Linked DNA regions of Homo sapiens. The protein of the gene in region 1 purifies or fractionates together with the protein of each later gene. This does not show direct contact. Each region holds a gene or a part of one and is shown on either strand. Other genes may lie near its edges. The genes, in order: TMEM70, CHDH, CANT1, NDRG2, ACSF3, HPN and TOP3A.

Region 1 (4,268 bases):
AGTGGTGCAATCAGGGCTCACTGCAGCCTCAACCTCTTGGGCTCAAGTGATCCTTCCACCTCAGCCTCCCAAGTAGCTGGGACTACAGGCAGGTGCCACCATGCCCAGCTAATTTAAAAATTTTTTGTAGAGACAGGGTCTCACTTTGTTGCCCAGGCTGGTCTCAAACTCCTGGAATCAAGTGATCCTCTCACCTGGGCCTCCACGTAGTATTGGAATTGCAGGCGTGAGCTCCCGCCCCTGGCCACACATTATTTTAGACTATGAATTTGTTCCTCTCCGGTGCAAATAACATGTCAAATCAAAAACATGTATAGTTCTGCAGTGGTAAACAAAAGTGTGTTTCTATTACTAAGATGCTCATCCTTCAAGACTGAGCTAAATGTGAAGCCAGTCTGAAGACATTCTGAGGCAAAATTAATCATGTTCTTCTTTGTACTTCTGTGGCATTTGTTTGTTCTTTTTTTTGAGACACGGTGTCACTTTGTGGTCCAGGCTGGAGTGCAGTAGTGTGGTCTTGGCTCACTGAAGCCTCGACTTTGGGCTCAAGCAATCCTACCATGTCAGCCTCCTGGGTAGCTGGGACCACAGGCACACACTTACCATGTGTGGCTTATTTTTGTTTTAGGTTTTTTTTTTTTTTTTTTTTTTGTAGAGACGGGGTCTCCCTGTATTGCTCAGGCTGGTCTCAAACTCCTGGCCTCAAGAGATCTTCCTGCCTAAACCTCCCAAAGCGCTGGGATTACAGGTGTAAGCCACCACGGCCAGCCACATTTTGTATATTGCGGTGTCTCAATTGTATTACATTATATTCTAGCCAATTTTCAGGTATTTTCCTCCACTGTTTAAGCACTGTGGATTCCCAGTTTAATCTAGTATTTTGTATCCTCTGCTCCTAGCTCAGTCCTGGCAATAGATTCAGTACCTCTTTAACAAGTAATGAATCAATGTGTATATGGATGTGAATGATTTCCGAAGACAAATCTGGTAACACCTATCAATATTACATGAACAATTCCATTTATTTTCCTCCAACCCGATGATTCAATTAAGTTATCACTCATTTTTGTTCAAATCGTATATTCTTTCTTCTGTGCCAACAGGCTAGAATCATTTTCCGCAAAGGAAACAGTTTTTAGTGATGTCGTCCACGAGAAAAAAAAATATTTAACCCTGGCTTCTGGGCATTGTCATTCTCGTACAGCCCTCTGCCCCTCCACACTGTTATAAAGAAGGTAAAATTCTAGGAAGGAGGAGCCGCTGAGCCAAGGACAGAGCGGCGGGCTCCCAGCTCAGCTGGCGGATAACGCGCGCGGCCGGGAAGGCGGCAGGCGGGCGGCAGGCGGGCGGCAGGCGGGCGGCAGGCGGGCGGCAGGCGGGCGGCAGGCGGGCGGCAGGCGGGCGGCAGATTCTGCGCACGCGCAGGCAGCCCAGCTGCCAGTCAGGCGTCCCGGGCTGGGCATGCGCCACTTGTGCGGCAGTCGGGTGGGAAGCCGTGTCTCGCAGTCGTGGACTCGTGCAGCTGGGGCGTCCGCAGCCGCTCGTCACCCGCGTGATGCTGTTTCTGGCGTTGGGCAGCCCGTGGGCGGTCGAACTGCCTCTCTGCGGAAGGAGGACTGCATTGTGTGCGGCCGCCGCGCTCCGAGGTCCCCGGGCCTCTGTCTCCCGGGCGTCCTCCAGCAGCGGGCCTTCGGGGCCGGTAGCCGGCTGGAGTACGGGGCCTTCGGGAGCCGCGCGCCTTCTCCGGCGTCCGGGTCGAGCGCAGGTAGGGCGTCCGAGGTCTGGTGTCCCAAGTGAGGCGGGGAGGGCGGGCGTCGTGTCGGGCCTGGGGAGCCCCAGCGGCTCTTCGCGACCTCTCCCAGGTGTCCGTGGCTGGAGCGCGGGAGGAGCCCCCTCTGCGGGGCTTGCAGAAGTAGCAGGCCGAGGGCCCCGGGGTCCTCAGCCTCCGCGAGTCCAGGAGAACGGCTGGAAAGTGCTTACTTTTATGGTAGTTCCAAATCCAGAGGGTTTGTGGTGACAACTATATGTAGTTCCTTTTCTGCCCTTGAGTAGAAGCTTAGAAGTGTTAATTTGCAAAAAATTGGATGCAGCACCTGGAAATAGAACCGAAAGAGCCAGGTTAACCTGACTTTGAGCTTGTTCTACTTTTATGAGGTGGCTGTACTTTTAAGAATTACTTTGGTCCCTGGGAAAAGGGGGATGCAGATGTTAATTCTTTTATTTTGATCTGAATAAATTGTCTTCTAATTCTACTCTGTAAAATATCAGGATTGGCAAACCTGGTTAAAACTTGGAAGAAATGCTTAAAATGGAAATTGGAATCTAATTACATTTCAGCATTGAGGAATTAGGCATGCCTTTTACATTTTGAAGTGTATACACTGTGAAACTCATTTTCAGATGTATGGGGAACGCTTCTGTTCCCTTGAAATTTGATGTAGGATTTCAAGTAAATTTTATTTCTTTTTTTTTGGAGGTGAAGTCTCGCTCTGTCACCCTGGTTGGAGTGCAGTGACGTGATCTTGGCTCACTGCAACCTCCGCCTTCCGGGTTCAAGCGATTCTCCTGCCTCAGCCTCCCCAGTAGTTGGGATTACAGGCGCGCTCCACCACACCCCGGCTGATTTTTTTTTTGTATTTTTAGTAGAGACGGGGTTTCACCGTGTTGGCCAGGCTCGTCTTAAACTCCTGACCTCAAATCATCCTCCTGCCTCGGCCTGTCAAAGGGTTGGGATTACAGGCGTGAGCCGCTGTGCCCAGCCAAATTTTATTTCTTGTCAAGAAATAAGAGGACCAGGGGATACACGGTATTTACAAGGTCTTTAGAGAAAGATTTGATCTCTTTAATACTATCATATAAATATTTTAGCAGTATTTGTAAAAGGCCTGGACTTTAAATATAATGTGAGTTTGCGGAGTATTTTACTTAAATTATTTTAGTAAAATTAAATTTTATTTCTTAGAGATGGGGTCTTGCCATGTTGCCCAGGCTGGCCTTAAACTCCTGGGCTCAAGTGATCCACCTCAGCCTCCCCAGTAGCTGGGGCTATAGACGTGTTCCATTACACCAGCTAAATGTATTTATTTTTTGAAAAGGTGTTGCATTTAAATAGAATGGAAATGATGTCGTCATTAACAGTGGAGTAGAAGAAACTGTTACTATTTTTACTTGTTCAAGGTCACACTAGACCTAGAAACCTGAGAGCTGGGATGCTAAGCTAACAAACTCCAGCTCTGCAGTTTTCTACTTGTGACTAGAATTAAGGCAAGCCATTCTGTCAGCCAATTTATTTCTTTAACTCTGTAGATTATTTGGGAGAATTCCTTATGTCACCTCATGTGACAAGTTCTTTTCATTACAATTTTATTTTATTTTTTTGAGACGGAGTCGTGCTCTGTTGCCCAGGTTGGAGTACAGTGGTGTGATCTCGGACCACTGCAATCTCCGCCTCCCAGGTTCAAGCGATTCTTCTGCCTCAGCCTCCGGAGTAGCTGGATTACAGGCGCCAGACACCATGCCCGGCTAATTGTTTGCATTTTTAGTAGAGACGGGGTTTCACCATGTTGGCCAGGCTGGTCTTGAACTCCTGACCTCAAGTGATCCGCCCCCCTCGGCCTCCCAAAGTGCTGGGATTACAGGCATGAGCCACTGCACCTGCATTACAATTTTAAAAATAAACTTAAGCTGGGCATGGTGGCTCATGCCTGTAATCCCAGCACTTTGGGAGGCCAAGGTGGCAGATCACTTGAGGTCAAGAGTTCAAGACCAGTCTGGCCAACATGGTGAAACCCCGTCTCTAATAAAAATACAGAAATTAGCCGGGTGTGGTGGTGGGCACCTGTAATCCCAGCTACTCAGGAGACTGAGGCAGGAGAATTGCTTGAACCCGGGAAGCAGAGGTTGCAATGGTGAGCTGAGATCGCACCACTGCCCTCCAGTCTGGGAGACAGAGCAAGACTCTGTCTCAAAAAAAAAAACTTAAAAAAATTTAAGAAGGTTAGTTGACCATAATGATCCCTGTTTCAATAGATCCCTGTTTATTGGGAAGGATATGTTCGATTCTTAAATACGCCATCTGACAAATCAGAAGATGGAAGGCTAATTTATACTGGCAATATGGCCCGAGCAGTGTTTGGTAAGTAATTGGAGGTGGGTGTACTTACTTTGTTTTTTTCTCTTTTAATTGTAAAAATATCCTTACCATATCTTACTTGTTGTTATGGCATCCCTTAATTACAAGACGTAAGGAAAATTAGATTTTCATTTTT
Region 2 (3,500 bases), on another chromosome or scaffold:
CACAGGTGGGTGAAGTACCTGTTGACAAGTAGTTGGGCTGGATCACAGGGTGGTCTTGGGGATTGGCACTTCTCAGTTTGAGCCAGCCCACACTCGTGCCCCGCATGGGCCCCACATGTACCTAGAAGAACACAGAGGAAGCAGTGACGGTCCCTCCATAGACATCCACAGTGACCTCTGTCAACCCTGGTTTACCTGTAGGGTGGGCCTCTGCTTCCAGAATCAGTGGGGAACAGATGCATGTTAGCATTTGCCCGCATGGTACCCACCTCCACGAGTGATTACAGACCACCTCAAGGAATCACTCTTTCATCCTGGCCTCATACTCCATGGCTCAAAGCTTTCAGAGGTGGTGATCCCAGAGCCAAGTCAGCCCCTCTGTTTGTCCCATTTCTGGTGCTCGGTACCTAGCCTGCATGAAACAGTCATACCATTGGCATGCACCACGCAGACTGACACGCTGGGCAGCTGGAAGGCAGGGGACAGGCCTCTGTGTCCCCCACTCTGCAGCCATATGGCACCAGGGAGAATGCTGCCTTGGAAGATGGGAGCATCTTCCTTCCTGGTGGGAAGGAGACATCCTGGGAAGCCGAGGCTCTTCCACCTGCTCACCTGGTAAGCCTCCTGCTGGGTGGGGACCCGCCCGTGGTCAATCACTTGGGATGGCAGGAAATGGAACTGGATGTCCGGGTGGGGGACCCCAGGCTGGCTGCGGATGAACCCACCTGTTTCCAGATGGGCAGTGGCTCCCTCCCCTGAGAAGCAGAAGAGGATGAGGCAGAAGAGCCAGTCAGGCCGTGGCAGGTGGGCCGGCTGCTCCTGGTTTCCCTCCTTTCTCCTGGCCGCTCCTCTTCCTTTTCCCGGACTCCACTCTAGTGCCTGGACCCAAGTCCTGTCCACATCTGTTCACCCCTCACAGGGGGCTCACCCAGCACCACACCATAAAATGTCAGCTATTTGCCAAAAGGATGGCATCAGCTCTGCTCTCTACCAGGGCCAATTCTGCCACTGCCCATGCCACCTGCCTTACCGGCTCTTCCCACTACCTAGCACAGCACACAGCACATACTAGGTGTGTGAGAAATACAGACTGAGTGGATGGGTAGGATTTTAAACTACCATTTCCTGGCCCAGGCACAGCTAGAAATCAAATGGAAAAGGTTGAAAGATGAATGCTGATTCTGCAGTCTAGCCCCAAAGTCTCCTCTCTCCACCTTTTCTCCTGGCTCCTTGGACCTCACCTGCTGTCCAGCACAAGGCCATCCCTGCTCATCCGTAAGGAGGAGCAGCCCCTAAGCCCCGAGGAGTCTCACCTCCAGCAGGCCCTGGGCCAAGCTCCTTGGCATGTGCTATTGTTTCTGGTCCTCGCTTCAACCTGTCAGGTTGAAACTGTGCATCCCCATTTTGAAGATGGAAAAACTGAGGCTCAGGGCTAAGGTAAATGGCATAGTTCCGCATCAAACCCAGTGGCCAGAACCCCTGTTCAGCTCCTCAGGAAGGAGGTCTCAATGCTTATAGGCAGTCTCCTCCCAGGTTACTGGTAAGCGTGCTCACCTGTGAATTTCCAGAGCCACTCCAGACCAATGCAGACCTTCCGCAGGGGCTTCTGTGCTGAATGGAGGGTGATAGGGCGGGTGCATGCCTGCTGAATGTAGATCTCCAGGTGGTCTTGCAGGTTCTGGCCAACCCCTGATACGGGAAGGAGTGGTTTAGAAAATGGCTACCAAGGGGGCTCAGCTGCTTCTCAATATCCCCCCGGTTTTGAAAAATTCTTTCCTATTCCCTTATCTTCTGGACCAGCTCCTGCTCAGTTCCCTGGTCTCAGCTTAAAGGCTGCCTCCCAGAGACACTATGTGTGCACTCCTGGCCAAGTCTGGCCTGCCTCGGATGCTGCCAAGGCCACCTGTCCTTGTCACTCACTCCTACGGCAGCCTCTGGGTGCCCCTTGTCAGCCCTGCTCAGCAGCCCCCTCTGTGAGGGCAGGGCCTACGCCTTCAGCAGGCACTGCTTGGTGAGCGGTTGCTGGATGGTGATGGCCAGAGGGGCAGACAGCAGCCCCACCCTCACGCCAGCGTGGGGAAGGAGGAAGCAGCCCTGTCGTGCTACACCGTCCTTGCATGAATTCATCCAAGCCTACTGGGACACTGGGCAGGTCAACATCATGAAGCAGCACTTCCCCGGGCCCCTCATGATGAAGCCTAAAGGCACAAAGGCCTAGCCCTCCCGGAGTGGGGTTATCAAGGAGGGCAAGAGACAGAGCCCGACCCTCAAGAGCATCAGAGACAGTTTATAAAACAAAGTTTACATCTTAACATGAAGAGCAGGCTCTGGAGCACGGAGCTGACCTCATTCATGCTCAGGGCAGCCAGCGAGTCCTGTGGATGGAAGGACGAGGCCTGGACCCCTCTCGCCATAGAGCTGCCCTGGTGACACGCCCATGCCCGACCCAGTGGGGCTTCAGGGCAGATACTCCCTGCTGCAGGGTGCCCTTCTCCAAATGAAATAGGGCAGCCGGAGGAGGGAGAAGGAAAACAATGCAAGACTCGGGGCCCAGGGATGACAGTGTCCAGTGAGGCCTGGGAAACCTTCGGGCTCTCGGGGACAATGTGATAGTTCCAAGGATCACTGACTGCCACCACCTCCCCACTTCATGCTAATAAGATACATACACTAAGCCTTTTGTTGAGCAGAGACAGCCTCTGGGGAGCAGTAAAGAAGGGGACTCACCAGGTAGGTGGCACACCACAGGGATGCCCAGTTTCTTGAGGTCATCAGCATTCCCGATGCCAGAGAGCATGAGCAGCTGTGGAGAGTTGATGGCACCTCCACTCAGAATCACCTCCTTGCTGGCATAAGCCTGGAAGAGGTCCAGCCAGGTCACTCCCTGAAAAGCCAGCTGTTCTCCTGACTCACAGACCAGCGCCCTACTCTAGCCAGCACCATGAGAACACAGCCTTGGGATGTAGAATCCTGTGGCACACCCGGGACAGGCCCCAGAGCTAAGGAGAGGAAACTCACTGAGTCACTACTTGAAAGCAACCAGCAGGTGCAACTACAGCTGGACAGTAGTGACAGCCTTAGAAACAGGAGGGGAGGGCTTACACGAGATAAATGAAAGCAGGCATTCAAGTGGGTGGTTTAGAGAGAGCAAGCGGTGAACCAGATCTACACATGAAGCTGCAAAACAATCAGACCCCCTGCCAACAACACAGAAATAGAGTACAATCACATTTATGGGTTTTAAAACCTCTAGTGTAAACCTATAGCTTTAAACCTATAGCTTTCTGTGACATCGGTGCCTTGAAATGGTGTGGAAGGTACTGGGGGAGAGCTCTGAATTAGGCATGGCACACAGGGGCACTGACACCATAGGCCCTTTCTCGGTGGCAGGACTAGGGGCTTCTTCACCTCCACCAGCCCACTGCCATCAGCTACTCGCCCCTCCCCCCGCCATCACAGGGATGAGCACGTGGGTCTGGGGGTGAGGGCGTGACTCCTGC
Region 3 (3,500 bases), on another chromosome or scaffold:
GAGCGGGCTGGGTAACTACAGGACTGTGCTCTGTGTGATAAGATTTGGTGATTCCACTTTATAAGAAAGGAAACTGCTTTAATTAAAGCAGGTTAATAATTAAAACTTCAAAGTACTGCACAGCCACAGAATTTTCTTGAAGGGAGAAAGCGGTCACTGGCCATATGATGCGGAGATGGTTTTATCTGAGGCCTGAGAACCAACAGATGTGCCTGCGCCCTGGCCTGTGCAGCTGTGGGCAGATGTGTCCCCAGGGGCCTGCCCTCACTCGTGACCATGCAATACCCTGCAACATAAACATTTTCTTTTCCAAGGATCTGCAGGGGTGGACATGATGCTCCAGGCACAGAGTAGGAAGAAAAGGGGGTGACCTGGGGTTCCCAGCAAACAGGTCCACCTCATGCTCACTGCGTTCTCAGGGTGAGGCATAGGGCCTGACATATGGTAGGAGCTCTAGGGATATTCACTGAACAAAAGAACATAGGAAAGAAAAGAAACGAGGTCGGATGGAAGAAACGACCCAGCCAGTTAGGCAGGCCTTGAGTCAATGCCTGAAGTGACCGAAATCACCACCAGATGGCAGCATGGAAAGCAGTTCAGACCGCGGCCTCCGTGGGGCCCGGGGGTCCAGTGCCCGCACCACTATGGGGCCCGGGACTGGGCTCCCTGTCCAGACCTCCAACCCAGGCACAGTTCCAAAAAGAACAAAACAAAACAAAAGTGCACTCCTCTTGTTTTTATAAAAGCTGAGTCCTGATGGCCTTGCTCAGTGTTTCCGTTTTGAGTTAAATGAACTCGATGCCTTCGTATTTCACGCTTCCGATCTTGGTCTCCGGCAACAGGAAGCGCCCGTCCAGCGTGAAGGCCATGATGTAGGAGGCGACTCTGCCGCTGTCCTCCTCGGATTTGAGGGCCACAATGATCTGGTCGTCGGTGTTGGGGATGAACTTGAAGGACGAGAAGCCGTGAGTGGGGACCACCGCCCCGACGTGGCTCACAGCGATGTCGCCGAAGTCAGGGGAGGCGCTCAGCAGCAGGTTGGCGCCCTTGCGCTCGTCGTCCTTCTCGCTGTAGCGCTCCTGGCTGGCGCGGCGCGGCAGGAAGAACCAGCGCTGCAGCGTGTCACTCCAGCAGGCAGACTCATGGATGAGGTAGCCTGGGAACCGGGTGACCGCGGGTCAGACACGCATGCGGCCTGGTGTGCCCAGCCCCACACCATCAGGCCGTGCGCAGTAGCAGGCAAGGGGCTGCGACCACCAGGGCCCACCAGCTCACAGCAACCCGCCCCTCCCTGCTCTCCAGGATTCTGGAAGGTTCTGTGTTCTCGGTTATCCCATGCAGGGAACCTGCAGCACCCGCTCCCTTGAAGCCTCCTCCCGTTCCACCGAGAGCTGCCTGTGAGCTGCATCAGGGATTTGGGCTCATCGGAGCCTCCTCGGGGCTGATCCAGAGGAACCCAAGGAAAGGGAACAAACCCCCATTGGATGTGGGGAGGCATCGGCGGGGAGGCTGCCTTGAGGCTGCAAGGAAGAGGAGACAGCGTCTGGGGCCCCAGGCACAGACTCAGTCACTTCCTCCTGAACCTCAGGCACCTAAGGCCTACTCCATCCTGACTAGGGGGAGGCCAAAGTGCTGCTGGCCCTATGTTGGTGTGGAACACCACGGCCCAGCGCCAGGGGTAGGGACAGGGCCTGACCCACCAGTGCAGACAACCGGGCCACAGGCTGGGATGCTAGGAGGCCAGCTGCCAGGGCGAGTGGGGCAGGAAAGAGAAAACAGCTCATTTGCCGCCAGAATCCACTGGCCTGAGGGAAGCCACCATCAGAGGCAACCAAAATCACTAAAATCAAGCAAGAAACGGCCTTGGAGGCTGGGTGTGGTGGCTCGCGCCCGTAATGCCAGCACTTTGGGAGGCCGAGGCAGGTGGATCACCAGATCACCCGAAGTCAGGAGTTCGAGACCATCCTGGGCAACATGGTGAAACCCTGTCTCCACTAAAAATACAATTAGCTGGGCGTGGTGGTGCACACCTGTAGTCCCAGCTACTGGGGAGGCTGAGGCAGAAAAATCGTTTGAACCCAGGAGGTGGAGGTTGCAGTGAGCTGAGATCGTGCCACTGCACTCTAACCGGGGTGACAGAGCAAGACTATGTCTAAAATAAAAAACGGTTTTGGAGGCAAATGCAGGAGGAAGCAGGTTCCCAGCGACTGGGCTGTGGAAGCCACACTGTGGGCTGGGGCAGGCGTCTCTTACCTGGCGGCTGGATGCCGGCAGCAGCCCGCAGGGCGTTGTAGTTGGACACCCAGTTCTCGTGGTCCACGCTGCCCTTGTAGCCCACCACCTTCACCCACTCCGGGTTCTCGTTCACCACATCACCCGTAGTGGTCGTCCACTCCTTGCCCAGGCCGCCCACGTACAGACGCTCGTCCTTCACTGCCAGCCATTCGGCCTTGAAGCCTGGCCAAGCAGAGTGTCCTTAGGCCCCGCACCCAGCTCCCGCCGCACCCCTGCACCTGGCTCCCACCCGGCCCCGCACCTGTCCTTAGACCCCGCACCTGACTCCCGCCCGGCTCCACACCTGCCTCCCCTCCGGCCCGCACCTGGCTCCCGCCCAGGGCCGGCCGGCTGCCCTCCCCTCAGCTCCTGAAGGTTCAGTGACCACTCTCAAGTCTCCTCTGATCCCCAACTCCCCGCTCCTCAAGCTGTAACCCCAACCTTAGGATTATCCTTAAAGGCTAGAAAAGCTGAAAAGTGACAGCACTCTGAAGGGGCACGTGTGTCCCAGGGGAGTGCGGGTGCTGCCCTCGGCCACACCTGAGGTCTCACCGAGCATCACTCTAACTCCAGTGGCCGGAGAGGGGCTTGGTGCTGGGGCTCCCAGTCTTCCTTTCAATGGATTTGTTCAGAAGCTGTTTTTGCTTTTTTTAAACTGATTTATTTAAAATAAGCCTAACTTTGAAGGCTGCCACAGTTCAGGCTGTGTGGGAGCCTGTGTTCTACCGTGTATTCTTATCATCCCTACACCCTGGTGTTCTAACTTCTGTTTGCTTTCCCCAAATTTTGCCAGCTTCTTGCCCCTGAGAGCTGGAGCTGTGCCCTCTGAACTGCCCGAGACTGTAGTAGCTTCTCTGCAGGGCCCTGGAGGGACCTGCGGTCTCCTGGTCTGCTTGTGCGATGAGACATTCTCCATGCCAGGGTCTTCCATCCCTCCCGGATGACCTGAGTACAGCCCAACCCCAGAGCTCCCTGTACCCCGCTTTCCTCCCTATCCAAGGGAAGGACAGAACTACACTAGGGTTGCCTAAAACCCTGACAAGTGCGAGGCAGGAAGTAGGCGACCAACGCCTCAGTTGATACCTCAGGTGAGGTCCGTCCCCTGCCCAGCCCTGGGCAAACACTGAAGATTTTATCACCGGGTGTGGGGAGGGCCTGGCCGGCCATGAACTGTGTGGGCCGTTGTTTAGTGCAGTTCCTCCTTGACCTCAGAAAGCCTGCGGTGG
Region 4 (4,257 bases), on another chromosome or scaffold:
GGTGGTGGTGGGAGGGTGGTTCCCAGGCAGGAGGGGGCAGGGAAACTTGGGGGTCTTGGGGGGGCAGTCGGTGCTGGTGTTGCAGTTGGCAGCTCAAGTTCCATTGGCCATTGTTCCTGACTGGCCTGGCGCCCAGCCCCCGAAATGGCAACTCAGGAACCAGTCTGAAGGGGGTTGGGGTGGATATGATCCTGGGATTGGGGGAGCTACAAGGGGGGCAGGTGGGGAGAAATTCAGTCAGGTTTCCTTTTGCCTAAACAACTTCGAATTCCCTTAAGCCACATTTTTAATCAACTAACTCATTCCAGGGAGCCTTCCTCCGAGGGGCACAAGGAGAGCTCATTCCAGGGTGTGTGTGTGTGTGTGCGTGTGCGTGTGTGTGTAAAGTCTACAGTGGCAAACCCACTCGGGCACCGAGAGGGACGCGGCAGACCCTGAGACCATCCCCCGGGCATTGCGATTCAGCGGGCCTGAGCTGGTCTCCTATTCTGGGCCGGACTGGGAGGGGTTAGCGGCGAAGCCACAGGGTCTCTTGGGTCCCAGCCCAGGACACTGCGTCCTCCCCAAGCCCCTACTCCACCCCCGCAGGGTTAACTCCGCCCCTGCGCCTGTTTACCCAGGAGTCAGAGCCTCTGGGGGTCCCCGGCCCCTCCCCCGCGCCCCTTGAGGCATTGACCCCAGAGTCCCTGTTGGCCATCCTCTCCCCACCCCCCGCCTGCCCGCGATCGCCCTCTATTTATAGCGGCCCCCCGCATTCCCCGCCCCCACCTCCCCGCCTTGTTGTCCAACTTCTCCCGGAGCAGCCGGAGAGCAGGCGTCGGGACGCAGCAAAGAGAGGAGAGGTACCAGGACTCTGGGCACGAGGGAGTCGGAACTCCTGCGCCCTCGACGTTCCCCCGTGCCCCCTTTCGGCGCCAGCACACCTGCCCCTGCCAGCCGGCGAGACCCCCGCCTCCTCAGCGGCGGTCCCGCCCACCTCCTCCTTTCTTAATCTAGTTCTCTGTGTTCGGGCGGGGGGAGTCGAACTCGTGGGGTGTCAGTATCCCGGGTTCGTCTCCCCACTACCGGTTCCCACCACTGAGTCTGGGGGCGAAGGAAGGAGCCAGAGTGCAATTGCAGATCCAGGTCGTGGATGGGGCGGTGCTGAGGGCAGCCGAGGGATCCCTCTCAGGGCTGAGGGATCCCCGCACTCCCCACACCGCCCCAATGCGGGGAGGGGGTGGTGGAATGTTTTGGTGAGCCGAGCAGAGCCTGGAAGCGTCCAGCCGCCCGCCCCTCGCCCCCCGGCCCCAGCACAACCCTTTCCTGAGCGGCAGTCTGGGCGGGGTGAAAGGGGGGGCGTGTTTACTGGGGGTCTGGGGCGGGTCTGCGGGGAGCCTAGCGCCCGTGGGCGGGCTGGGGCGGGCCGGGGGCGGGTCTGCGGGAAGCCCGAGCCGGGGCGGGCCCGAGTCAAAGGCAAGTGAAGGTGGAAGCGGCCGCGGCGGCAGCAGGTAGGGGGAGGGGCAGGCGAGGGGCCGTAGGGCCTGGAAGGCGCCAGCCGGGCCGGCGGGCGGTGTGATTGATCCGCGTCCCCTGGAGCTGGAGGCTCGGGGGAAAGGGCCAGCACGGAGCGGGCGCTCGGTTGCTGCGCACAAAGGCTGAGGCTCCAAGAGCTGCAGGGCGTGTTTGGGGTGCGCGCGAGGTTGTGTGCAAGGTCCGGGGCGCTTGGCACCGGCCACGCAAGGGTGTCAGTCTCCACGCGGACGGGCTGCGTAGGGACTCGTAGGGACGGGTTCCGGGTGCTGGGCCCGGCCGGTCTCCTCTGTCCTACCCATCCCTTCCCGATGGCGCTTGCCTTCGCGGGCCGTCGGGGGAGAACGGGAGAAGATTGTGGGACCGCTCTCCTCTCCCTTTCTCCACTCGTGGGACCTACACGGAGACTGAGTAGAGGAGAGAAGCGACGGCACCAATCTTTGTGTTTGTTTTTAAATTGTGGAGGGAAACAGCCATGCTCTGCTACCCTCCTCTTACTGGAGAGCTGTCAAAAATTTTGGGGATCCCCTATTCCCCCGCGTTTAGTCCCCCTGCAGATAGAAAATTGAGGCCAAATGTAGTAACTAACTGGGGCAAGGTCACACTGGGAGTGGCAGAGCCGGGATTCGAATCCGGAGGTTCTGACAGGGCCACCCTCTTACCTCCACATCAGCACTTCCTTCTCTCCTCCGCGCAGCCTGAACTGATGCCCTTGTAGCCTATATTGATTCCGGCTCGAGCCTAGAGAGGACGTGTTCTCTGGACTTAGGGGTAGACAGACACTGGGGAGGGTTAGTGACCCGAGGAGGTTGATGACCCTGGGAGTCTGGGTCTTGGCTGAGGCTTTCCGTCCCTGAAAGACCCCAGGTCTGTCTCCCATGTCATTCACCTCGTTGCTGTGTTTTCTCAGACCCCAGAGTCAGAAGGAGTGAGAACCCTGACCCCTAATCCCACTGCATCCAGCCAATAGGAGCCCAGTAAGTGACCCCACCCCGCAGGCTGCAGGCTCCTTCCTGTGCAGGTCTGTCCAGGTGCTCTGCTCCTCACCCACTAATGTTGAACTTGCGGAGTTTATTCAGAGTTGGGAGGAAGGGTCTTGGGAGGAAGGGAGGCATTGGGTTGGTTGGACAGATGTCCCTTTTATGTTGTTTTCCCCACCTCCCCCATTGGTCATGTTGCTTTGGTCATTTTTAGCCCCCTTTGAGCTGCCGACTTTGGGGCTTTAATTGAAGGTCATGGTCAATTGTGAACTCTCACAGTCCCGTCTTTTGGTACCCTGTCCTTTAGAATACTCAGTCACTGAGCTACAAGTTTCACTCCCTACCTGAGAGTGTGGGGTGGCCCCTAAATATAGCCCGAGAAATCTGAGCTACACTTCTGCCCCACCCTGGTATTTTGGTCCAGGGCAGAGGAGGGAGGGGTCTGGAGGTGTGGTGTTGAGGGTGGCAGTGGGGATGGTGAGTATCAAGAGAAGGGCTGTCCTGATTCCTCTTCCAAAGCTTCCACCGATCAGCCTGGAAACGGAGCTGGGGGCAGGAAAGGCCCTCTGTGTGTTCTAGAGTAGTCTTCAACCCCTGGGTCCCTCTGTTCCCTGCATCTTCCTGTGCTGAGAGAGGAAGCCTGGTGTTTGAGGCGATGTGGGGATGTAGAGACAACTTCCCAGTCTCATTTCCTCATCCTGCCAGGCCACCATGGCGGAGCTGCAGGAGGTGCAGATCACAGAGGAGAAGCCACTGTTGCCAGGACAGACGCCTGAGGCGGCCAAGGTTATTAGAGACCGTTTGACTCCCATGCCCAAATTCCAGACCTCTAAGCATCCCCCTTGCCTTCTAACTTCCCAAGCGTACTGATCTTATTCTAACTCACACCACTGCTTCACCACTACCCTAGTCTCTCTCCCCATACACTATAATTGGGAGTCAGGCCCTTGTCTCGTCACTACACTAACCTTCATCCTTTCCGTGTCTCTCTTTGTCAATCTCTTTCTGTCTTTGGTCATTTGTTGGTCTGTCTTTACTTGCCTCTCTTTGTCTGTTTGTCTCTCCATCTGGGACGCCACATGGTCATGTGTTTCTGTGTGAATCCGTGTGTGTCTCTCCAGGAGGCTGAGTTAGCTGCCCGAATCCTCCTGGACCAGGGACAGGTAACAGTGTGGGGGCAGTCCCAAGGTGGGAGGAGGGGCTGTCCTCTTCCCCAGTAGAAGGATGGCCTCTGCTTGGCCCTCTCTTCTCTCTTTGCTTTCTTTCCTTCTATTCTAGTCCTTTCCCTTCCCTATCTCTCCCCTCTCCTTCCTTCCCCTCCTCTTCTCTCTCTAATCTTCATTATTCTTTCTTATCCTCAAACTCATCTTCCGGTATCATGTTTTCCTCAATTCTTGCTGATCCTGTTTTTAATTCTTTGTTCCCTTTTCCCTCTTGCCCACCCACTCCCAGCTCCCTGACCTTGGTGTTGCTCCTTTTCTGGCCTCGTCTCCTCTGAGCCTAGCTCTTGGTGCCCTGTTTTCCTGCAGACTCACTCTGTGGAGACACCATACGGCTCTGTCACTTTCACTGTCTATGGCACCCCCAAACCCAAACGCCCAGCGATCCTTACCTACCACGATGTGGGACTCAACTGTAAGGACCTTCATTCATCTCCCACTCCTGTCTGGGAAGAGGCTGTGGGGGAAGGGTAGAAATGAAACCCAGAGGGAGGGGAGGGGTCAGTGTGGGAAGGAGAAGTTCTCTCCTGGTCTGACTGTGGCAT
Region 5 (3,500 bases), on another chromosome or scaffold:
GCTCCGCGGTGCTGCTGTCTCCCGCACTCTGGTCGCCTGTGTCTTTGCTTTCCCGTCTGTGGGTCAGCCTAGATCACCCCCGTTGACTGTGTCTGACTTTTTTCCTCTTTTCTGCTGCGTCTTGTTTGTTATTAGGTCTATTGAATGAATTCATTTTGGATCTTGTGTTTTTCAGTTTTATGATTTTTTGCAGTTCCACTTCTCTTTGCAATTCTCCATCTTCCCCACGTTGTTCATCTTTTCTTTGAAATTCCTTAATCTGCTTATTGCAGTGATTTGAAGGGCCTTGTCTGGTGATTCGGACGTTTGGATTTCCTGAGACTTCTTCCCTTCAGTTGGGGATCACATCTTTGTGTCCTTACATGCTTTGTGACTTTGAAGGGTTCCAGTCTTTGTCTTTGAAAGAATGATATTATTTCTTCCCCGGAGATTCCTGCCTTTCTCTGCCAGGCAGCTGCGGTGAGGCACTCGTCACTGCAGTCCAGTGAGGAGATGAGATGGGCTGGGGCTGGACTGTGGCATCGGCATCCGTCGACCCCAGTTTCAACGCCGTGTGGGCGAGATCTGTCCTGTGTGTCCTGGGCCTCCCTTAGGTGCTGACCCCACAGCACGAAGAGTGCCCTCCTCCCTCCGCCACACCCTTCGGTGCTCCGTGTGGAACACCGCGGGTAGAGAGGGCCATGGAAGGAATGCGGCTCACCAGCTCTTCCTGAAGCTTTATGGGCGACGCGAGAACCCGCTAACGAGTGAGGAACTTAAAACGTATTTATATGTAAGCAAGAAATGTTTATTATGGAGTAAAATATAAAATTCACATGACTCTTTTAAATAAAAGACTTCACCCGTTCGCTAGTCACTGCATGCCTGTCCATACTGGGAAGCATGCTGACTTCAGGTCTGCGGGCAGCCAGGCCCTCCTGCCAGCTTCCCCAAGGTGTACATCCGCCCTCTCTGTGTAGCTGGAAGAGCCTGACCACTCACGTCTCTCCAGGCCACAGATCCCGAAGCCCTTTTCTAGCTCTGTTCACGATTGCTCTTCCCCTCACAGGCCAGACGCAGCTGTCCCGCGCAACATGGCTTCTGTGGGAAGGGGTCAGAGTTTGAGGCACCCCTTTTAGAAGGGAGGCGCTGCAGACTCTTGAATGTGAACCATGAGAACGCTGTGCCTGGAGCCAGGAGCCTCCGCCACGGGCCCCAGTGCCTGCTCATCTTCCTACCGAGTGCTTCCTTTCCTTCGTAGGTTTGGGAAAAGTTCTTAAGTTCTGAAACGCCGCGGATCAATGTCTTTATGGCAGTGCCTACAATATACACCAAGCTGATGGAGTACTACGACAGGCATTTTACCCAGCCGCACGCCCAGGATTTCTTGCGTGCAGTTTGTGAAGAAAAAATTAGGTAAGTGAAAAGAGCCCACTTTCTCGTTCAGAAAGTCTTAAAGATCAACAGATACGACTTATTTCTAATAAATCACTCCTACTAAGTTCTGGGAAGCAGTGCTTTCCATTTCCTTTCAATGTTCCCTCTCTCTCTACCCGTCTCCGTCTCTACCTCTCTAACTGTCTCTCTCTCTCTCTACCCGTCTGTATGTATATCTGTAATCTCTTCCACGTCGATAGCTGCCTGGATTCTGTATCGCTCTCTCTGTCACACTCTGTCTCTCTATCTCTCTCTGTCTCTCTTTGTCTCTCTCTCTCCATCTCTCCATCTATCTGTCTTCTCTGTCTCTCTTGTCAGACTCTCCATCTCTGTCTTCTCTCTGTCTCTCTCCATCGCTCTTCATCTGTCTCTCCGTCTTCTCTTTCTCTATCTCTCCTGTCTCTCCATCTGTCTCTATCTCTCCATCTGTCTTTGTCTCCGTCTGTCTGTCTGCTCTCTCTCCTGTCCGTCTCTCTCTCTCTCTGTCATGGCGTCTGAAGGACAAGGGTGAGGACAGTGAGCTGACCCGCTTGCTCCTGCTTCATCTGCCCACATGTCCCACGGCGCCTGCCTCTCCTATGCAGTCTCTCTGCCTTCGTGGGCAGCCCTGTGAGGCCTCCTGCCTGGGGCACGTTCTGCTGCTTTTCCTCTCAGCCCCGCTCCTCCCCTCCCAGCTCCCTGGATAAACCCCTCCCTCCCAGGACAAGCTGGTCTTTTGGGCCACCCAGGGGCGTGTTTGCTCTGCACTCTCCCATGAACCTGCAGGCGTGGGAACGTTTCTTTTCCCTCGTGGCTGTTGAGGTGTGGTTCACTAACTGGAAACGCACACGTGTGGCTCAGTGAGTCTTCACACGCATCACAGGCCCGCACCTCCAGCAGAGTCGTGGGTGGGGTATTTTTTCTTTTTGTGAGAGGGAGGGGTGGCGTGGAGGGTGCACTGCAGGAACTGAAGGCTCCACTGCCATCCAGTTTCCAGTGGGATGTGTGTGTCTGTGGCTGCCGCGCGCTCCTCCCAGTCCCCAGGAAGTGCACAGGGAAGCGGCACCTTTGTTCCTGGAGAGAATTCCGGGTTGTCCAAGGCACATGTCTGAACCGCTTCGCTCTCTTTGCCGTTCCCTTGCCCCTTTTCTGTGAGGCCACCGGAGCCCATGGTTTTGCTGCTGCTACTGCTGGGATACCCTGGGGCTGGGCAGGCCCCAAGCTGAGCAGGGTGAGCACAACGTTTTACCAAATCTAAGGAACCAAGGGCAAGAACGAGGTCAGTGAAGGAGAGGATCAGGTGATTTCTGGGGTGACAGAGGCAATGAGACCTCGGCCATCTGGATCTCCCAGCGGGGGTCCTGTCAGTGGTGCCTCCTCGTAAAGCAGGGGCAGCAGCAGGGACCACTCCGCTCAGACCGCAAACAAAAGCGCCTTCCCTACTGCCCGTGAGGCTGCGGGAAATGCTGTGTGAGAGCGCGGGGACTCGGAGTTCTCAGGGCCCGTGTTCTCCTGCCAAGCCTGAGCTGACCCTGTGGGCCAAGATGGCTGCAGTTCTGCGGGTGGTTCTGAGCCCCTTGGGTGTGCCCGGCCCCACCCCTTGGGTGCCGCGGCCATTCACCCATGTCCGCGTTCTGCTGCAGAGCCTGCAAGCTGAGCCGGCTGTAGTCCCCGGATGTGCCTGGCCGCAGCCTGCAGCGCCGTGGCTGTTCACCCGTGATCAGCTCCGTGGTCGGCAGCTGCACGGTCACTGCTGTTCTTGAGCGTGGTTGTGAACAGCGCAGGAACTTTGCAGGGGACACCGCGGACCCTAAGCACATTGTTTACCCTCATTAGCTGTTGGACCTGCTTCCTTCTAAAATACACCCAACAGATCGTTTTCAAAAAACAAAGTCACGCCGTAGCGCAGACTGCAGCGTTGGTCCCGGGTGTCGCACAGTGGTGCTGTACCCACGGCCTGGGGCTCCTGCACTCGTGAAGGAGCTGCCACTTTTGCAAGCAAGGGCCGCCTCCTGAGGGGCTAAACCTGCCACCTTTGCACGCGAGAGCCACGTCCCAAGGGGCTAAACCTGCCTTTGGTTGTGCCGCGTAGGCTGATGGTCTCA
Region 6 (3,500 bases), on another chromosome or scaffold:
AACAAATTTGTTCTTCTATTTTCCATATGCTGTCTGTGTACGTATAAAGTGAGAGGTCTTTTTATATGAGTTAAGGGTGTGACCAAAGACAAATGGAAAAAGACAAATGACAAACATACTAATAAAGAGCTTCGGTTTCTCCACAAAAAATACAATAATAAAATAAAATGTTATCAGAAATCTCTTGACTCTCCTCCACGTTAGCTCACTTTTTCCCTCAAGAGGGTGAACATGACCCTTAACAGATCCAGCCTCAAGTGCTGGATTCTCTTGGGAACTTGGTTAAATGGTTTTTTTTCTTCCCGAATGTCCAAGTCACCTTCCAGACCTGCAGCTCCTGAGCAGCCAACTTAGGACTTCTAATGGAGAGTGAAGTTCCCCTGGTTCGCGGAGGGGCCGGCCACAGCCTCAAGGCTGCTGTTGATTGGTCCGACCTGAGTCCTTGAGTCTGGCAGAGTGCCATGGTGCTCTGTAATCCCACCTGTAATCCCAGCATTTTAGGAGGCAGAGGCAGGAAGATTGCTTGAGCCTAGGAGTTCAAGACCAGCCTGGGCAACATAGCAAGACCCGTCTCTACAAAACAAAACAAAACAAAACAAACAAACAAAAAAATTAGTCAGGTGTGGTGGTGCACGCCTGTGGTCCTAGCTACTCAGGAGGTTGAGGTAGGAGGATTTCTTGAGTCTGGGAGGTCAAGGCTACAGTGAGCCAAGATCACACCACTACACTCCAGCCTGGGCAACAGAGCGAGACCCTGTCTTTAAAAAAAAAAAGTCCTTGAGTCATGATTCCAGATGCAATCGCAGATGTGGGGGCTGCAACCCTCCGATGGGCTGGGGTTCACGTCTACACCACATGGCTGGAGCACAGGCCAGGAGGGGCTCCGGCTGGGGAAGCATGTGGGGAGCCTGGCTGTGGGACCCAGGCGGCCCCGGGCCCTGTCGCCCTGCAGTGCAGGTCAGCTCTGCGGACGCTCGGCTCATGGTCTTTGACAAGACGGAAGGGACGTGGCGGCTGCTGTGCTCCTCGCGCTCCAACGCCAGGGTAGCCGGACTCAGCTGCGAGGAGATGGGCTTCCTCAGGTACTGGGGGCCCTCGGAGGGGTGGGAGCCGGGAGGGGCTGGGGAGCAGGCCTAACCCCTGCCCCGCCCAGGGCACTGACCCACTCCGAGCTGGACGTGCGAACGGCGGGCGCCAATGGCACGTCGGGCTTCTTCTGTGTGGACGAGGGGAGGCTGCCCCACACCCAGAGGCTGCTGGAGGTCATCTCCGTGTGGTGAGGAGGGCAGCGGGCAGGTGGGGCAACACCTCAGACCCCCAAGGCACTCCCTCTCCCCGTTTTCCTTCCACCTGTCTTAACTGGTCTCTATTTCCTTTCTTTCTGTGTCTCCAATCCCATCTCTCCCAGTGATTGCCCCAGAGGCCGTTTCTTGGCCGCCATCTGCCAAGGTGAGATCCTAAAACTCAGAACCCTCTCCTTTAGGCCCTTGGGGAGGCCACGTCCCCTCAAGCTCCCCAGGATGGGGCCATGTACTTTCAGACCCCCTAGGGCAGGGCCAAGCCTGGGCTCTGGGGACCTGGGCTCCAGTCCCCTGTCGCCGCCCCCTGCTGACCCTTGTCCCACAGACTGTGGCCGCAGGAAGCTGCCCGTGGACCGCATCGTGGGAGGCCGGGACACCAGCTTGGGCCGGTGGCCGTGGCAAGTCAGCCTTCGCTATGATGGAGCACACCTCTGTGGGGGATCCCTGCTCTCCGGGGACTGGGTGCTGACAGCCGCCCACTGCTTCCCGGAGTGAGTGCCCCCCAATGGCGCTGATGATGGGGAGGCAGAGGAGCGGAGAGACAGTGGGGAGGAGGGCGGATTGTGCCCAGGCAGGTGGCCACCCTCCACCCCTTTCCCTGGTAGGCGGAACCGGGTCCTGTCCCGATGGCGAGTGTTTGCCGGTGCCGTGGCCCAGGCCTCTCCCCACGGTCTGCAGCTGGGGGTGCAGGCTGTGGTCTACCACGGGGGCTATCTTCCCTTTCGGGACCCCAACAGCGAGGAGAACAGCAACGATATTGCCCTGGTCCACCTCTCCAGTCCCCTGCCCCTCACAGGTAAGTCTAAGGGCTGAGCCATGGGGCTTGAGGACCCGAGGCCAGGAGGACAGAGGAGGGGACCAGGGGCACAAGGCAATCAACTTATGGCTCAGGCATCCTTGGCAATAAGGGGAATGATCTCGAGGGAGCACAAAGTGGGCCTTAACTATCAATGATCAGTGCAGCCAATTTGGAAAATTTGCCAGCATTTCCCCAAGAAGTATACATAAAGTTACCATTGGACCCAACACTTCCACTCCCAGGACAGGAGGTATATACCTAAGACAAATGGAAACTGTGTCTGCACCAAAACTCGTACATCAGTGTTCATAGCAGCATTATTCATAATAGCCCAAAGATGGAAACAGCCCAAGACTGTTTCATCGGACAAATGCATAAAGAAAATGTGGTATATTGACCGGGCGCGGTGGCTCATGCCTGTAATCCCAGCACTTTGGGAGGCCGAGGTGGGTGGATCACGAGGTCAGGAGTTTGAAACCAGCCTGGCCAACATGGTGAAACTCCATCTCTACTAAAAATACAAAAATTAGCCTGGCCAACATGGTGAAACTCCATCTCTACTAAAAATACAAAAATTAGCCTGGCCAACATGGTGAAACTCCATCTCTACTAAAAATACAAAAATTAGCCTGGCGTGGTGGCACACGCCTGTAATCCCAGCTACTCGGGAGGATGAGGCAGGAGAATCTCTTGAACCCGGGAGGTGGAGATTGCAGTGAGCCGAGATCACACCACTGCACTCCAGCCTGGCTGACAGAGCAAGGCTCTGTCATCTTGAAAATAAATAAATAAATAACAAAAAAAATGTGGTATATCCACACAACGGGAGAATATTGGACCATAGAAATGAATGAGGTACTGATTCATGCTACCACAAGGATGAAACTTGAGAACAGTGCTGAATGAGACAAGCCAGCCGCAAAGGCCACATACTGTAGGATGCCACTTGTATGAAATGTACAAGGCTGGGCACGGTGGCTCACGCCTGTAATCCTGGCACTCTGGGCAGCTGAGATGGGAGGATTGTTTGTGCTCAGGAGTTTAAGACCAGCCTGGGCAACATAGCAAGACCCCATCACTTAAAAAAATGAGCTAGGTGTGGTGACGGATACCTGTAGTTCCAGTTACTCAGGAGGCTAAGGCAGGAGGATCACTTGAGCCCAGGAGTTTGAGGCTGCAGTGGGCTAGGATTGTGCCACTGTACTCCAGCCTGGGTAACAGAGCAAAACCTTGTCTGTTAAAAAAAGAAGAAAGAAAGAAAGAGAAAGAAAAGAAAGGAAGGAAGGAAGAAAAGAAGAAAAGAAAAGGAAAGAAAGAAAAGAAATGTCTAGAATAGGCACATCGGTAGAGATAGAAAGTTGATTGATGGTGGCAGGGTGGGAGGTGGGGATGGGAGATTG
Region 7 (3,500 bases), on another chromosome or scaffold:
GAGTGTAGTGGCACGATTTCAGCTCACTGCAACCTCCGCCTCCCAGGTTCAAGAGATTCTCCTGCCTCAGCCTCCTGAGTAGCTGGGACTACAGGTGCGCATCACTGGCTAATTTTTGTATTTTTAGTAGAGATGGGGTTTCACTGTTAGCTAAGCTGGTCTCGAATTCCTGACCTCAAATGATCCACCCGCCTCGGTCTCCCAAAGTGCTGGGATTATAGGCCTGAGCCACCATGCCCAGCCAGACTTTTTTGTTTTATGTAGGGACAGGGTCTTGCTATGTTGCCTAGTCTGGTCTTGAACTTGCACCCTCAAACTGTCCTCCTACCTCAACCTCCCAAAGTGTTGGGATTACAGGAGTGAGCCACTGCACCTGGCCAGATTTGCCTACTTTAGTTATTTCCTATAAAGAGCCAGGCACAGTGGCTCACACCTGTAATCCCAGCACTTTGGGAGGCCAAGGTGGGCCAATCACTTGAGGTCAGGAGTTCGAGACCAGCTTCACCAACATGGTGAAACACTTTCTCTACTAAAAATGAAAAAATTAGCTGGGCTTGGTGGCAGGCGCCTGTAATCCCAGCTACTCGGGAGGCTGAGGCAAGAGAATCACTTGAACCCGGAAGGCAGAGGTTGCAGTTGATGGACACTTGAGTTGTTTCTACTCTTTGGCTATTATAAATAATCCTGCTGTGAACAGTTTTGTACAAGGTTTTGTGTGGATATGTGTTTTCATTTCTCTTGGGTAGACTTAGGAGTGGGATTGCTGGTTTACTTGGTAACTCTACATTTAACATTTTTAGGAACCACCAAACTTTTCTGAAGTGGCTGTACCGTTTTTCATTTCCACCAGCAAGGCACTAGGATTCCAGTTTATCCACATCCTTACTAACACTTAGTATTATCTCTCTTTTTGATTTTGCCAGTAGGTCTGAACTGCTATTTCACTGGTTTTTTTGGTTGTTTTTTTGTTGTTATTGTTGAGGTGGAGTCTCGCTCTGTTGCCCAGGCTGGAATGCAGTGGCTCGATCTCCGCTCACTGCAGGCTCCGCCTCCCAGGTTCATGCCATTCTTCTGTGTCAGCCTCCTGAGTAGCTGGGACTACAGGTGCCCGCCACCACACCCGGCTAATTTTTTTTTTTTTTTTTTTGTATTTTTAGTAGAGACGGGGTTTCACCGTGTTAGCCAGGATGGTCTTGATCTCCTGACCTCGTGATCTGCCCGCTTCGGCTTCCCAAATTGCTGGGATTACAGGCGTGAGCCACCACGCCCAGCCCTTTTTTTTTTCTTTTTTTTTTTAAAGAGAGTCTCACTCCATCACCCAGGCTGGAGTGCAACGGTGCCATCTCAGCTCGTTGCAGCCTCTGTCTCCTGGGTTCAAGTGATTCTCCTGCCTCAGCCTCCTGAGCAGCTGGGACTACAGGTGCGTGCCGCCACACCCTGCTAATTTTTGTATTTTTGATAGAGACAGGGTTTCAGCATGTTGGCCAGGCTGGTCTCGAACTCCTGACCTCAGATGATCTGCCCACCTTGGCCTCCCAAAATGCTGGGATTACAGGCATAAGCCACTGCTCCCAGCCTTCACTGCAGTTTTAATTTGCATTTCCTTCATGGCAGAGCTACATTTTGAAAGGTCCCTTTGGCCACAGCTTAAAGAATGGTTAGGGTAGAGGAAGAGACTAGAAATAGGGACACAAGCTGCAAGTATGGCTTGGACACATGGGGAAGAGAATTTTTAAAAAGAGCTTTGAAGCTGGAATTGACAGCTTTCCTGAGTAATGGGATGTGAGGGAACAAGAGAGTTGAGGTTGCCATTGTGATTTCTTGAATGAGCTATATGGGAATGAAATGAAGGCATCTTACCTGCATAGGCTGTCCAGGCAAAGGAGGGATTCCGGGGTGAGCAAGGTGCCCATGCGCCACCCGGGTGGAGCTGTTGTCTGTATTACCTCAGAGTAACCAGCAAGTGGCTTCCAGGTACGGATGCCACTCATGCGGAGCACATCGAGACCATCAAAGCCCGGATGTACGTGGGCCTCACCCCAGACAAGCGGTTCCTCCCTGGGCACCTGGGCATGGGACTTGTGGAAGGTAAGGGAGGACAGAGCTTGCAGTGGGTAGTGGGTGGTGTCGCCCAAGTCCCTGAGGGTCTCAGGTGGGCCCTCACTGAGCTCGACTCTCTCCCTGCAGGTTATGATTCCATGGGCTATGAAATGTCTAAGCCTGACCTCCGGGCTGAACTGGAAGCTGATCTGAAGCTGATCTGTGATGGCAAAAAGGACAAATTTGTGGTTCTAAGGCAGCAAGTGCAGAAATACAAGCAGGTTTTCATTGAAGCGGTGGCTAAAGCAAAGAAGTAAGTCCTTAAAAGAAATACAGAGGGGTCTCACTATGTTGCCCAGGCTGGTCTTGAACTCCTGGCCTCAAGAGATCTTCCCACCTCAGCCTCCCAAAGTGTGGGGATTACAGGCGTGAGCCACCGCATCTGGGCCAGTCAGAGTTTATAACCCTGCCAGATTCATCCTCACCAGTGGCCTCCTGGCCTGGAGGTTTTCCACATACCCCTTTTCTTTGGACTTTCTTCTCTGGGTTCTTTTACAACTCTCCATAGAGCTTTGTCAGTATAGAAACAGTAATCGGAACAGTCTCCTTCAGTTATTCTGAACTATTGGCTTTAGAAATACCATTCTCTTGATTTTAATTATCTTTTTTTTTTCTGCTTTAATTACATGACACATTAATTATCTTGAGTTAGGCAACAAAGTCTTTTAAATCAGTAAACCCAAGTGCTGGAGTGTGATCCATTTGTTTTCTGGAGCATTTAGAGGTGGATATTTAGCAAGCAGCATGTGTGTATTTTGTTAGAAATGATGTGTTTTCTACCTGTGATATTATGATTTATAATAAGATATATATATTTGGACTTCATTTTCTGATACCCTTGGAATTTTTTAAGTGCTGTGTCTGTTGTATACAAATGAGATGACTAGTGGCCAAGGGCTCCTGGGTAGCCTTGGGATCGGTCTGGTTGTCAGGGAACCAACCCTGTGATTAGAAGGTTGGGACTTTGAGTCCCACCCCTACCTCAGGAAGAGCAGAGGGGCTGGAGGTTGAGTTGATCACACGTGGCCAGTGATTTGTCAATCATGCCTAAGTAATAAATCCTCCATAAAATCCCCAAACAAGGGTCAGGCACGGTGGCTCACGCCTGTAATCCCAGCACTTTGGGAGGCCGAGGCGGGTAGATCACAAGGTCAGGAGTTCAAGACCAGCCTGGCCAACACAGTGAAACCCCTTTCTCTGCTAAAAAAAAAAAAAAAAAATACAAAAATTAGCCAGGCATGGTGGTGCGTACCTGTAGTCCCAGCTACCTGGGAGGCTGAGGCAGGAGAACTGCTTGAACCCGGAAGGTGGAGGTTGCAATGAGCCGAGATTGCCCCACTGCAGTCCAGCTTGGGCAACAGAGTGAGACTTCTTCAACAACAACAAAAACAAATCAAACA

What was found.
Region 2: the proteins of TMEM70 (region 1) and CHDH purify together in Homo sapiens (affinity purification with mass spectrometry; 2 studies listed by BioGRID and IntAct, with this or other methods). This does not show direct contact.
Region 3: the proteins of TMEM70 (region 1) and CANT1 purify together in Homo sapiens (co-immunoprecipitation; one large-scale study listed by IntAct). This does not show direct contact.
Region 4: the proteins of TMEM70 (region 1) and NDRG2 purify together in Homo sapiens (co-immunoprecipitation; one large-scale study listed by IntAct). This does not show direct contact.
Region 5: the proteins of TMEM70 (region 1) and ACSF3 purify together in Homo sapiens (affinity purification with mass spectrometry; 2 studies listed by BioGRID and IntAct, with this or other methods). This does not show direct contact.
Region 6: the proteins of TMEM70 (region 1) and HPN purify together in Homo sapiens (co-immunoprecipitation; one large-scale study listed by IntAct). This does not show direct contact.
Region 7: the proteins of TMEM70 (region 1) and TOP3A purify together in Homo sapiens (affinity purification with mass spectrometry; 2 studies listed by BioGRID and IntAct, with this or other methods). This does not show direct contact.

Annotation. Positions count from the first base shown.
Region 1 is NC_000008.11:73,974,727-73,978,994, forward strand, and holds the start of TMEM70 (transmembrane protein 70, mitochondrial), read left to right. Parts: upstream 1-1,468; 5' UTR 1,469-1,555; coding exon 1,556-1,765; intron 1,766-4,029; coding exon 4,030-4,135; coding exon of another isoform or gene 4,136-4,143; exon of another isoform or gene 4,144-4,149; intron 4,150-4,268. UniProt on the Homo sapiens protein: Scaffold protein that participates in the c-ring assembly of mitochondrial ATP synthase (F(1)F(0) ATP synthase or complex V) by facilitating the membrane insertion and oligomer formation of the subunit c/ATP5MC1 through its interaction.
Region 2 is NC_000003.12:53,818,920-53,822,419, forward strand, and holds part of CHDH (choline dehydrogenase, mitochondrial), read right to left. Parts: intron 2,858-3,500; coding exon 2,728-2,857; intron 1,690-2,727; coding exon 1,555-1,689; intron 756-1,554; coding exon 613-755; intron 122-612; coding exon 19-121; intron 1-18.
Region 3 is NC_000017.11:78,992,765-78,996,264, forward strand, and holds part of CANT1 (soluble calcium-activated nucleotidase 1), read right to left. Parts: intron 2,458-3,500; coding exon 2,254-2,457; intron 1,157-2,253; coding exon 786-1,156; 3' UTR 1-785.
Region 4 is NC_000014.9:21,022,262-21,026,518, reverse strand, and holds the start of NDRG2 (protein NDRG2), read left to right. Parts: upstream 1-1,457; 5' UTR 1,458-2,489; exon of another isoform or gene 2,490-2,543; intron 2,544-3,011; exon of another isoform or gene 3,012-3,197; coding exon of another isoform or gene 3,198-3,203; coding exon 3,204-3,278; intron 3,279-3,613; coding exon 3,614-3,655; intron 3,656-4,021; coding exon 4,022-4,127; intron 4,128-4,257. UniProt on the Homo sapiens protein: Contributes to the regulation of the Wnt signaling pathway. Down-regulates CTNNB1-mediated transcriptional activation of target genes, such as CCND1, and may thereby act as tumor suppressor. May be involved in dendritic cell and neuron differentiation.
Region 5 is NC_000016.10:89,110,852-89,114,351, forward strand, and holds part of ACSF3 (malonate--CoA ligase ACSF3, mitochondrial isoform 1 precursor), read left to right. Parts: intron 1-1,240; coding exon 1,241-1,395; intron 1,396-3,487; coding exon 3,488-3,500. UniProt on the Homo sapiens protein: Catalyzes the initial reaction in intramitochondrial fatty acid synthesis, by activating malonate and methylmalonate, but not acetate, into their respective CoA thioester. May have some preference toward very-long-chain substrates.
Region 6 is NC_000019.10:35,058,721-35,062,220, forward strand, and holds part of HPN (serine protease hepsin precursor), read left to right. Parts: intron 1-338; exon of another isoform or gene 339-952; coding exon 953-1,082; intron 1,083-1,153; coding exon 1,154-1,276; intron 1,277-1,408; coding exon 1,409-1,449; intron 1,450-1,626; coding exon 1,627-1,792; intron 1,793-1,906; coding exon 1,907-2,097; intron 2,098-3,500. UniProt on the Homo sapiens protein: Serine protease that cleaves extracellular substrates, and contributes to the proteolytic processing of growth factors, such as HGF and MST1/HGFL. Plays a role in cell growth and maintenance of cell morphology.
Region 7 is NC_000017.11:18,283,995-18,287,494, reverse strand, and holds part of TOP3A (DNA topoisomerase 3-alpha), read left to right. Parts: intron 1-1,974; coding exon 1,975-2,088; intron 2,089-2,187; coding exon 2,188-2,353; intron 2,354-3,500. UniProt on the Homo sapiens protein: Releases the supercoiling and torsional tension of DNA introduced during the DNA replication and transcription by transiently cleaving and rejoining one strand of the DNA duplex.